Linked DNA regions of Homo sapiens. The protein of the gene in region 2 purifies or fractionates together with the protein of the main gene of each other region. This does not show direct contact. Each region holds a gene or a part of one and is shown on either strand. Other genes may lie near its edges. The genes, in order: TUFT1, CYTH4 and CWC25.

The links.
Region 1: the proteins of CYTH4 (region 2) and TUFT1 purify together in Homo sapiens (affinity purification with mass spectrometry; one large-scale study listed by BioGRID and IntAct). This does not show direct contact.
Region 3: the proteins of CYTH4 (region 2) and CWC25 purify together in Homo sapiens (affinity purification with mass spectrometry; one large-scale study listed by BioGRID and IntAct). This does not show direct contact.

Annotation. Positions count from the first base shown.
Region 1 is NC_000001.11:151,578,198-151,581,237, forward strand, and holds part of TUFT1 (tuftelin), read left to right. Parts: intron 1-523; coding exon 524-629; intron 630-1,451; coding exon 1,452-1,535; intron 1,536-2,744; coding exon 2,745-2,845; intron 2,846-3,040. UniProt on the Homo sapiens protein: Involved in the structural organization of the epidermis. Involved in the mineralization and structural organization of enamel.
Region 2 is NC_000022.11:37,288,877-37,292,529, forward strand, and holds part of CYTH4 (cytohesin-4), read left to right. Parts: intron 1-3,653. UniProt on the Homo sapiens protein: Promotes guanine-nucleotide exchange on ARF1 and ARF5. Promotes the activation of ARF factors through replacement of GDP with GTP.
Region 3 is NC_000017.11:38,815,307-38,818,959, reverse strand, and holds part of CWC25 (pre-mRNA-splicing factor CWC25 homolog), read left to right. Parts: intron 1-3,218; exon of another isoform or gene 3,219-3,335; intron 3,336-3,653. UniProt on the Homo sapiens protein: Involved in pre-mRNA splicing as component of the spliceosome.

The DNA.
Region 1 (3,040 bases), on a different chromosome or scaffold from region 2:
TTGCTTCTAGATTTACCCTCCAGAGTTATCCAGAATGACTTATCCCTTCTAACCTTTCCGAGCCTCAGTTTCCTCTCTTAGACTAGGTGATCCCTGATGATGCTTCCAATGTAATATTCTTTTTTTTTGTGAGACAAAGTCTTGCTCTGTCACCCAGGCTGGAGTGCAGTGGCGCCATCTTGGCTCACTGCCACCTCTGCCTCCTGGGTTCAAGCGATTCTTGTGCCTCAGCCTCCTGAGTAGCTGGGACTACAGGCACACGCCACCACACTTGGCTAATTTTAGTATTCTTAGTAGAGGTGGGGTTTCACTATGTTGGCCAGGCTGGTCTTGAACTCCTGACCTCAGTGCTTCCAATGTGATATTCTAAGGTACCCACCACCTACTCTTCAGAGCAGCCTACCAGGGAATCAGGCAAAGGGAATCATATTAATGGGAACCTCCCAAGCTCAAGGCTCTTCCTGTGACTGGGTAAATAAGTGATCTTGTTCCATTGCCTCAGCCTTCTGGTCTTTATCCCCAGGGCTGCTACCCTGGAAAAGGAAGTGGCCGGGTTGCGGGAGAAGATCCACCACTTGGATGACATGCTCAAGAGCCAGCAGCGGAAAGTCCGGCAAATGATAGAGCAGGTAAGTTGGGCTGGTTTGTAACCTGCCCTCGGGGAGTCACCCCAAGTCTATGCTCTTATTTGTTTCCTAGGGAGCTTGACTTATATTCATGCATTTCCCATGTCAAACATTTATAGCTACCAATTACCAGGTTCAGGTTATTAGGATTTGCTTTTCTCCCATCTTTCCCCTACTGTTTTGTTTGTTTGTTTGCCATTTGGCCTCTGCTTTCCAATAGGAAAGGAAGGAAAAGGTTAATTTGTCATATACTCTGTGAAGAGTGTGGGTAAATGAGTAGTTGAGTCATAATAAACTCTGTTATCTGTGCAGATTATCAGTCTTTGAGCCTCATGGCTGCTTTCCTGCCTTACCCCACCTGAGCTTGAGGGTAGCATACTTAGGATTTGTCTATTTGCAGAATTGTTTTGAGAGCCTAAGGCCCCATAACTGGGAGGCTGTATGTGCTTCATGTCAGCTCCATTAGTGTCTGTTTTATTTAGTGCTGTTTTCCATTATCTCGAACAGAGTCAGTCATATAGTAAGTACTCAATAAATATGTCTTGAATGAAAAAATAATTTGTATTTTCCAAAGCCATATGGAATGGGTTTTGTCATTCATTATTTTGGATTCTCAGGGTGGTATTCCCCTCACACACTCCTCACTCCCACCCCTGGGATAATCAAGAGTCTAATATTGACTGAAAGGAGGCCTTTGTAGAAAAGCTAATGAAGTCATATGGAGTTGCAGGGCTCTGCTGCCTTCCCCAGCAGCTGGGGTGAAGTCTGGTGAGTGTGTAATGAGTCATTGCAAAATGAGCTCCAGTGTCTCCCACACCTTTGCAGCTCCAGAATTCAAAAGCTGTGATCCAGTCAAAGGACGCCACCATCCAGGAGCTCAAGGAGAAAATCGCCTATCTGGAGGCAGAGGTGTGTGTGCTGGGCAGCCCAGCAGGGGAACAGGACTCTTGAAGAGAAGGTGGACATAAGGGAGACAGAGGTTATGGGAGGGGTCTTTGTCATGTCTTGCTGTTGCTCTGAAGTGAATACCTAGGGTGGTTGGTTGACTTTCAGTTCAGCTGAATAAACATTTTCTGAGAACCTTCAGGAAGCTGCTAACAATGATGAGATGACCACCCCCCTGGCCCCACCTTCAACGGACATGTCATCATGGTGCAAGCCACATGCCATGGCTGCACACGGCTAATTCTGACCCTCCAGGCTTTGCAAAGGAGCTGGCAGTGGTGCTGGGCTGTGAAGGAGGAGGAGGCATTCATACAGATGGAGCCTTTTCCAGGGCTAGATTACGTAACGAGTTGCCTTCCTAGTCTAATTTCCACTTTGCCACAGGGCCCTACCTGTCTGTTGACTACCTGAAGATCACTTTGCGAACGCTCTGTGAAGATCCCCTGTAGTGAGGGAGAAAAATGGGAGAAAGGGTTATCTTTAGAGAGTTTGCAGTCTATAGTCAGAGATAAAATGTGTATTTTTAAAAAGACCAAAGAATGCTTTATAGAATAGCGTATCAACAAAGGCAAGTGAGTATCTCAACTGAGGACAAAAAATTATATATAGGGGCCAGGTGCAGTGGCTCATGCCTGTAATCCCAGCACTTAGGGAGGTTGAGGCGGTAGGATTGCTCGAGGCCAGGAGTTCAAGACCTAGGCAACATAGTGAGACTTTGTCTCTGAAAAAGAAAAAATTTTTTTAATTAACCAGATGTGGTGGCATGCATCTGTAGTCCAGTTACTTGGGAGACTTAAAGGAGAGGATCACTTGAACCCAGGAGGTCGAGGCTGCAGTGAGCTATAATCACGCCACTGCACTCCAGCCTGGGCAACAGAGTGAGACCCTATCTCAAAAAAAAAAAAAAAAAAAAAAGAACTGTATGTAGAGGACATATAGGAAACCATCAGTCTGTCAGTGTTGTACAGAGTTATGGAGGAGCAGGTATTGGAGGATAAGCGCAATCTATGGTAATGAAGATGAGGCAAGTGGGTATCCAGGTGGTGGCACGCATGGTGGGGGTAGAGGCAACAGCAGCATAAACACAGGCAGAGAGACCAGAATGCACTAGCTGAACGTGGCACCCGGGAAGCCAGAAAAAGGCCAACTCTAACCCCTAAGCTTGTGTTACAGAATTTAGAGATGCATGACCGGATGGAACACCTGATAGAAAAACAAATCAGTCATGGCAACTTCAGCACCCAGGCCCGGGCCAAGACAGAGAACCCGGGCAGGTGAGTGAGCGTGTGTAGATAGAATGGGGCCAGGGAGGAGGGGAGAAGGAGGGACAGAGCTCTGTAGAACCTTTAGTGCTAAGGCAAGAACAAGGCTCCTTTAAATCCAACTTTCCTCCCTCAGTCTGACCCACTGTTTGCCGGAACCATTTTCTAGCCCAATTAGAGTAGAACCTGTTAACACAAGCCCAGGGA
Region 2 (3,653 bases):
TGGCCACGTGCTCACTTCAGACCACCTTTGCTGTAGAGAGCATCCCTTGGTCTTCTGTGATGTTATGTGGTGTGCTGTGTTGGTGGGTCAAACACCCTAAGCCTCTGGATAGTGGTGCTGGCTGAGGCTCTGTGGGCAGGAAAGGCAAACACATTTCCAACACGTGTCGACTCCAGACAAGATGGATTGTTGACTTTTGCAGAATAGAAGGGGTTTCATGGAATCAGTTTGCCCCCTGGTCTTCTGGAGAAAAGATGGGCTCAGCATGCGTCCCTGTTGCTGGCAGAGTGGACATTCCGCTCCCACGGGGTCATCCACCTGCCTCTTCTCCTGACATCTGTGTTTCTGATCTTCCCATCTTCCTTCTTTCTTGCCTCTGACCAAGAAGTCAAGCCATTCACCACTGCCCATGATGCATGGATATTCTGACTTCAAGAAGTCACTTCTCTTTCCACAGGAAGTGGATGGCCAGGTGCCCTGCCTGAAGCCCTGCCCCCTGGGAGGACTTGCCCTCATCACTGTCTTTCCAGGACACCTTTGAGCAGGACTGTAGTTCAGTAGCTGCCTGGTTTTCACTTGCGCCCAAACTCTGAGCCAACTCATTCTGCAACCAGCCTTGGGCATTTTCCTCTGTTGTTAGAAAGTCATAAGGGACCCACCCATGTGGTCACGGTGTAAGCAGAGGGATAGACCCTGGTCCACCAGCAGCGGTGACATGAGGATCTGGGCCACCTATCCCTGGAGCCTACTGGAGCCCTCTGGCTCTGCTCACACCTGCTCCTGGACGTACCACTCACAAAGGGTTACTATTGGGCTCGCTTGACCTTCTGACTTAGTGGGACAGATGGAGCCATCTGAGCTACTTAGTTACATGATGTTCCGTGGGCTGGCACTCTATCTCTACCAGGACCCGGTGCCATTCCAGGAACTGTTTTCTGCATAGTATATAATTCTCTGCTAGAAGGAAGCAGCTGGAAGGAGCAGGCCATCCTCCCGACCGGGGAAGTGCTTGGGTATGTGATGAGGGCCATTGCTCCTGCATCCGTTAGGTCTCAAGAGTGGCACCCACACCTGCCATTCCCCTCAGGATATAGTTTTTTATTTAGTCTCTTCGCTGTGGGGATGATGGGTCAGCTTCATAAATTTCCAAATAGCTATTCCCACTACAATGATCCTGACCCCATGGGCCAAGGTACCAATATGGGCTCAAGTACCAGCGATGTCCATTCCAATTCTACATCTGTAGGCCAGGAAAGTGGCCATGAATCAAGCAGACCCCTAGTGAGCTGGACCTGGAAGGACTTCATTTACCACCTGGTCTCTATGTACCCCCACTCAAATGTGGCCCTGAAGACACTTCAGTCTTGAGCGCTGATGTCAACTTGGATCCTGTGTCCAACAATCCTCAGAATGTTTGGATATTGCTCTTTCCCCAGTGTACAGTTGTTGGAGTGAATGGCCACAGGTGTTTTAATGTGGAACCAGGGAGTCATTGCCATATATACTTGCCACAATGTTGCAGGACTCTTCCCTTGGAACCCAGCCTCTCCTTCAGTCCCGACGTTCTGTATCTGAAAACTGGGGTAGGTCCTGAAACCAGGCAAGGGGTCTTGGGTTTTTTTGTTTGTTTTGTTTTGTTTTGTTTTGGAGACAGAGTCTCACTCTGTTGCCCAGGCTGGAGTGCAGTGGCATGATCTGGGCTCCCTGCAAGCTCCGCCTCCCAGGTTCACGCCATTCTCCTGCCTCAGCCTCCTCCGGTGTACCTGGGACTACAGGTGCCCACCACCATGCCTGGCTAATTTTTTGTATTTTTAGTAGAGATGGGGTTTCACTGTGTTATCCAGGATGGTCTCGATCTCCTGACCTCGTGACCCGCCCGCCTCGGCCTCCCAAAGTGCTGGGATTAGAGGCGTGAGCCACCTTGCCTGACCGGGACTTGGCTTTTTATTGCAGTGGCTGCCCTTGGTCAGGGGAACTCCTGGGCGTGGCACCTCCCTTTGGCTGAGGCTAGTGTCTGGGGAGGGATTCAGCTGTGAGCCATCAGCAGGCTTTCCTCCCAGCAGCTGGGGGGATGGTGCCTTGGTCCTGAAGAGAAGAGCCAGATGCACACAGCACCCATTGCACACATGTGGGACTCAGCATATGTTGGATTCTTGCTGGGTGTTTGACAAAGTGTAGCTCTTTCCTTCCTGACAGCTGCCCTGTGAGGCAAGGGTTATGGTTCACATTTCACAGATGAGGATGCTGTATTAGGTATATCTCAGATTTAGCTGCTTAAAGAGACTCAGAATAACAGCAACCGAAACATTCTCAAAACTGATTTATTTCTTATTGAAAAGTCCAAATGGATAGGTGGGCCAGGTGAACATGATGAGTCTTCTCCACACCGCTGCCTGGGGACCTGGGCTCCATCTAGCCTGGTGCCCTGCATCTCCGCATGGGGCTTTAATCTCAACAGCCACAATGCCTGCTTAATCATGAGAAGGAGAAGTAGGGAAAGGGAGCGCTCAACATTCCCTCTGTGTTCTTTTGGAGGAAATGATGTCTATCCTTGTAAAACCTTTAAGAAATGCGGCCAGGCACTTCCCGACGCTGGAACTTGAAGGTCAGCGAGGATTTGGGCAGGCAGACAGGAGAAGGCATCCCAGAGTACAGGAGCGGCCTGGGCAAACATGGGGAAGTGGGACTGAGTCCTGGATGGCTCTGGAGCAGGAAGGAGCTGGCAGGCTGGACTGGCAGGCTCTTTTTGGGAATGGCAGGGAATAAGTCTGGCTGCCAAGGCTGGAGAGGTTGTGGAGGCCCCAGGCCCAGGATGAAGACTTTCTCTCTGAGTAATAGGGAGGCCATATTACTCAGAGAAGGAGAGTGTTGTGGATGAAACAGAAGCCACCATGAAGCATGAAGATAGGACAGCTGACCTAGTTGTGGGCATCATCACAGCACCTTGCATAGAATGCCGCACACACAAATCTTATTTCATTTAATTCATTTCCAAGTGGAGATGAAAGAGCACAGGCTTTGGAGTCAGCCCAATTCAAGGTCCCATCCTGGCTCAGTGACCTTTTCCCTGTGGGTTGAGTCACCTCACCTCTCTGAGCCCCAGTATCCAGGGGCAGGGACTATAAAATATCCCCCAAATCCAGCCTCCCCATTTTACACAGTAAGGACATCAGGACCACCCTGCTACAGGCTCATTTCCCAGCCTCCCTTGCAGCTAGGTGTGGCCACGTGACTACATTCTGGCCAATGGGATGTGAGGAAAATGGTATACCACTTCTTGGTTGTTCAAATAAATAAGTGAATAAATAATGAGCCCATGAGCCAGTGGAGGAGGAGATTCAAGTTCCGGGGAAGGAATGCGTGCCTTCAGCGAGTGTTTAACTGAGTGCTTATGACATGTCAGACTCTTTCTAGGTGCTGGGGACACAGTAGTGAGCAAAAGAGTAGAACAACTGAACTCTCATGGAGCCGAGAGTCTAGCGGGAGGGACAGAAAAGATGCAAGGAAACAGGATCCTTTTGGGGGTGTCTATCCAGGGGGGTGGGAGAAACAGGAAGCAGGGCAGGAGAGGAGGGAGCAGGGGCTGCTTTAGACAGGGCAGTCAGGGGAGGCTTCCTGGAGGAGGTGGGCCTCTGTGAATAGGGCAAGTCCTG
Region 3 (3,653 bases), on a different chromosome or scaffold from region 2:
AAGGTAAAAATTGTTTTGACATTTTTATTCACCAAAGCATTACACATCATGTGCTCAATTTATCAGAAATTTGGGCTTTTGTGGAGTCTGATTAATGAGGTCAGAGTACAGATGCACAACTGTAGAGAAAGGAGCCAGCATTGTTGCAGACTCATGCCTGCTTGTCTGTCGTGAATGGGGGAAGGTGATTTTATATGCTTTGTTTTGTTTTGCCCTATCACATGTCCTACAATATTGTAAAACACTAAGATCAGCATTTGGTTCTCTCTGCCCCTTCTCTTTTTGGTCTTTACTGCTAATGTATTTAGATGACTTAAGTATTCATCTGTTTGTTTTGTATAGTTCTTTTTTTTTTTTTTTTTTTTTTTTTTGAGATGGAGTCTCGCTCTGTTGTCCAGGCTGGAGTGCAGCACGATCTCGGCTCACTGCAAGCTCCGCCTCCCGGGTTCATGCCATTCTCCTGCCTCAGCCTCCTGAGTAGCTGGGACTACAGGCGCCCGCCACCACGCCCGGCTAATTTTTTGTATTTTTAGTAGAGACGGGGTTTCACTGTGTTAGCCAGGATGGTGTCGATCTTTGACCTCATGATCCGCCCGCCTCGGCCTCCCAAAGTGTTGGGATTACAGATGTGAGCCACAGTGCCCGGCTGGTTTTATTTTTGTTATTTATTTTATTTTATTTTTTGAGATGGAGTCTCATTCTGTCGCCCGGGCTGGAGTGCAGTGGTGCGATCTTGGCTCACTGCAACATCTGCCTCCTGGGTTCAAGCGGGTCTCTTGCCTTAGCCTCCTGAGTAGCTGGGATTACAGGCGCACATCACCACGCCTGGCTAATTTTAGTATTTTAAGTAGAGATGGGGTTTCACCATGTTGGTCAGGCTAGTCTTGAACTCCTGACCTTGTGATCTGCCCGCTTCAGCCTCCCAAAGTGCTAGGATTACAGGCGTGAGCCACTGCACCCGGCCTATTATTTATTATTATTATTATTATTTTTTGAGTCAGAGTCTTGCTCTGTCTCCCAGGCTGGAGTGCAGTGGCACAATCTCCGCTCACTGCAGCCTCCACCTCCCAGGTTCAAGCAATTCTCCTGCTTCAGTCTGCTGAGTAGCTGGGATTACAGGCGTGTGCCACCACGCCTGGCTAATTATTATTATTATTATTGTTATTATTTTTGTGTGACAGAGTCTCGCTCTGTCACCAGGCTTGAGTGCAGTGGTGCGATCTCGGCTCACTGTAACCTCCGCCTCTTGAGTTCAAGCGATTCTCCTGCTTCAGCCTCCCGAGTAGCTGGGACTACAGATGCACGCCACCAGGTCCAGCTAATTTTTGTATTTTTAGTAGAGACAGGGTTTCACCATGTTGGCCTGGATGGCCTTGGTCTCTTGACCTTGTGATCCGCCCATCTTTGCCTCCCAAAGTGCTGGGATTACAGGCGTGAGTTACTGTGCCTGGCCTAATTTTTTTGTATATTTAGTAGAGATGGCATTTCACCATGTTGGCCAGGCTGGTCTTGAATTCCTGACCTCAAGTGATCTGCCCGCCTAGGCCTCCCAAAGTGCTGGGATTACAGGTGTGAGCCACAGCGCCCGGCCCCATGATCAATTCTTATTTTTTTTTTTTTGAGACCGAGTCTCGCACTGTCACCTGCGTTGGAGTACAATGGCATGATCTCAGCACATTGCAACCTCCACTTCTCGGGTTCAAGCGATTCTCCTCCCTCAGCCTCCCGAGTAGCTGGGACTACAGGCGTGTACCACCACGCCTGGCTAGTTTTTTGTATTTTTAGTAGAGACGGGGTTTCACTGTGTTGGCCAGGCTGGTCTTGATCTCCTGACCTCGTGATCAGCCTGTCTTGGCCTCCCAAAGTTCTAGGATTATAAGTGTGAGCCACCGTGCCCAGCTGATCAGTTCTTAACTGTAGACTACAGTGTTTCTCAGACTCATTTTTTTAATATGAAAAAAATTCTAAAGGGTCTTGGGGCCAGGCACGGTTGCTCACGCCTGTAATCCCAGCACTTTGGGAGGCCAAGGCTGGCAGATCACGGGGTCAGGAGATCGACCAGCCTGGCCAACACGGTGAAACCTCGTCTTTACTAAAAGTACAAAAAATTAGCCAGTCTTGGTGACACATGCCTATAGTCCCAGCTATTCGGGAGGCTGAGGCAGGAGAATAACTTGAACCTGGGAGGCAGAGGTTGCCGTGAGCCAAGATCGCTCCACTGCACTCCAGCCTGGGCAACAGAGTGAAACTCTGTCTGGGGGAAAAAAAAAAGGGTCATGGCCCTGCAGTGTTGGTTTAAATTATTCTTACCAAAAATGTCCAAGCATGCAACTAGGAAAACATTCTTTATGCTCACAGTTGTTATATAACCTCAAAAACAAGTATACACATTTAAAAAGTCATATTCAGGTTGGGCATGGTGGCTCACCCTTGTAATCCCAGCACTTTGGGAGGCTGAGGCAGGAGGATCACTTGAGGCCAGTAGTTTGAGACTAGCCTGGGCAACATAGCAAGTCCCATCTGTTTAAAAATTGAAAAAATAAAAAATCAGCAAGGCATGGTGGTGCATCCCTGTAGTCCCAGCTACTTGGGAGGCTGAGGCAGGATTTGTTGAGCCCAGGAATTCAAGGCTGCAGTGAGCCATGATCGCACCATTGCATTCCAGCCTGGGTGACAGAGTGAGACCCTGTGTCTAAAAGAAAAAAAAGAACAAAAAAGTCATATTCAAAAAGCATTTAATTTCAGGTTATAGATAATACTGTCAATGAAAGTACTTTCCTGGTTGCAGTGTGAATGTAGTATTGGCTGCTTCCACGCATGCTCTTATGAATTTAGCCTGCCTTTACTGTCTGTGGTATGAGGGTTCCACTTTCTCACCACTTTTTTCTCCCAGAACCGCAGGGAAATGTTTGTGTGGCATGATGCTGTGACTTAATTTGGCCCCTAGATGGCTGAGACCAGGGTTTATTCACTTGTGAAACCCAGATAGTTACCTAATGATTCACGTATTCAGTGTTTGGCTCTTTTGGCTTGAAAGCGTCACTTATTCAGTTACCTCTGATTTTTTCCCATCATCCCCTCAAATGTGTAGTGTTACCGCTGGTGTCTGTGTGCCCACAAGCACCAAGATGCACAATCAATGCAACTGCGTATGTGGTCACTGAAATTGTTCTTGATGGTAAGATGGTGATGTAGAATGTGCTTATTCATTGTTTTAGGTCATCTTGGAAATGAAAGCATAATATAAAGACTCTGTAAAGGAGACTCGAGAAGCTCTGAGCCAAGATCCACACCCCATGTTGAGGAACACTGGTTTTCCTTATAAATTGCTTTATGTGAGTGAATATTCTCTCTCCATTCACTCGTAAGCCTCATGAGGACAAGCACCATTTATTTATTTATTTATTTGAGACAAGGTCTGGCTCCGTCACCCAGGCTGGAGTGCAGTGGCGTGATCTTACTGCAACCTCTGCCTCCCAGGTTCAAGTGATTTTCCTGCCTCACCCTTCTGAGTAGGTGGGATTACAGGCGTCCGCCACCACGCCTGGCTAATGTTTTGTATTTTTAGTAGAGATGGGGTTTCATCATGTTGGCCAGGCTGGTCTCGAACTCCTGACCTCAAGTGATCCACCCGCTTCGGACTCCCAAAATGG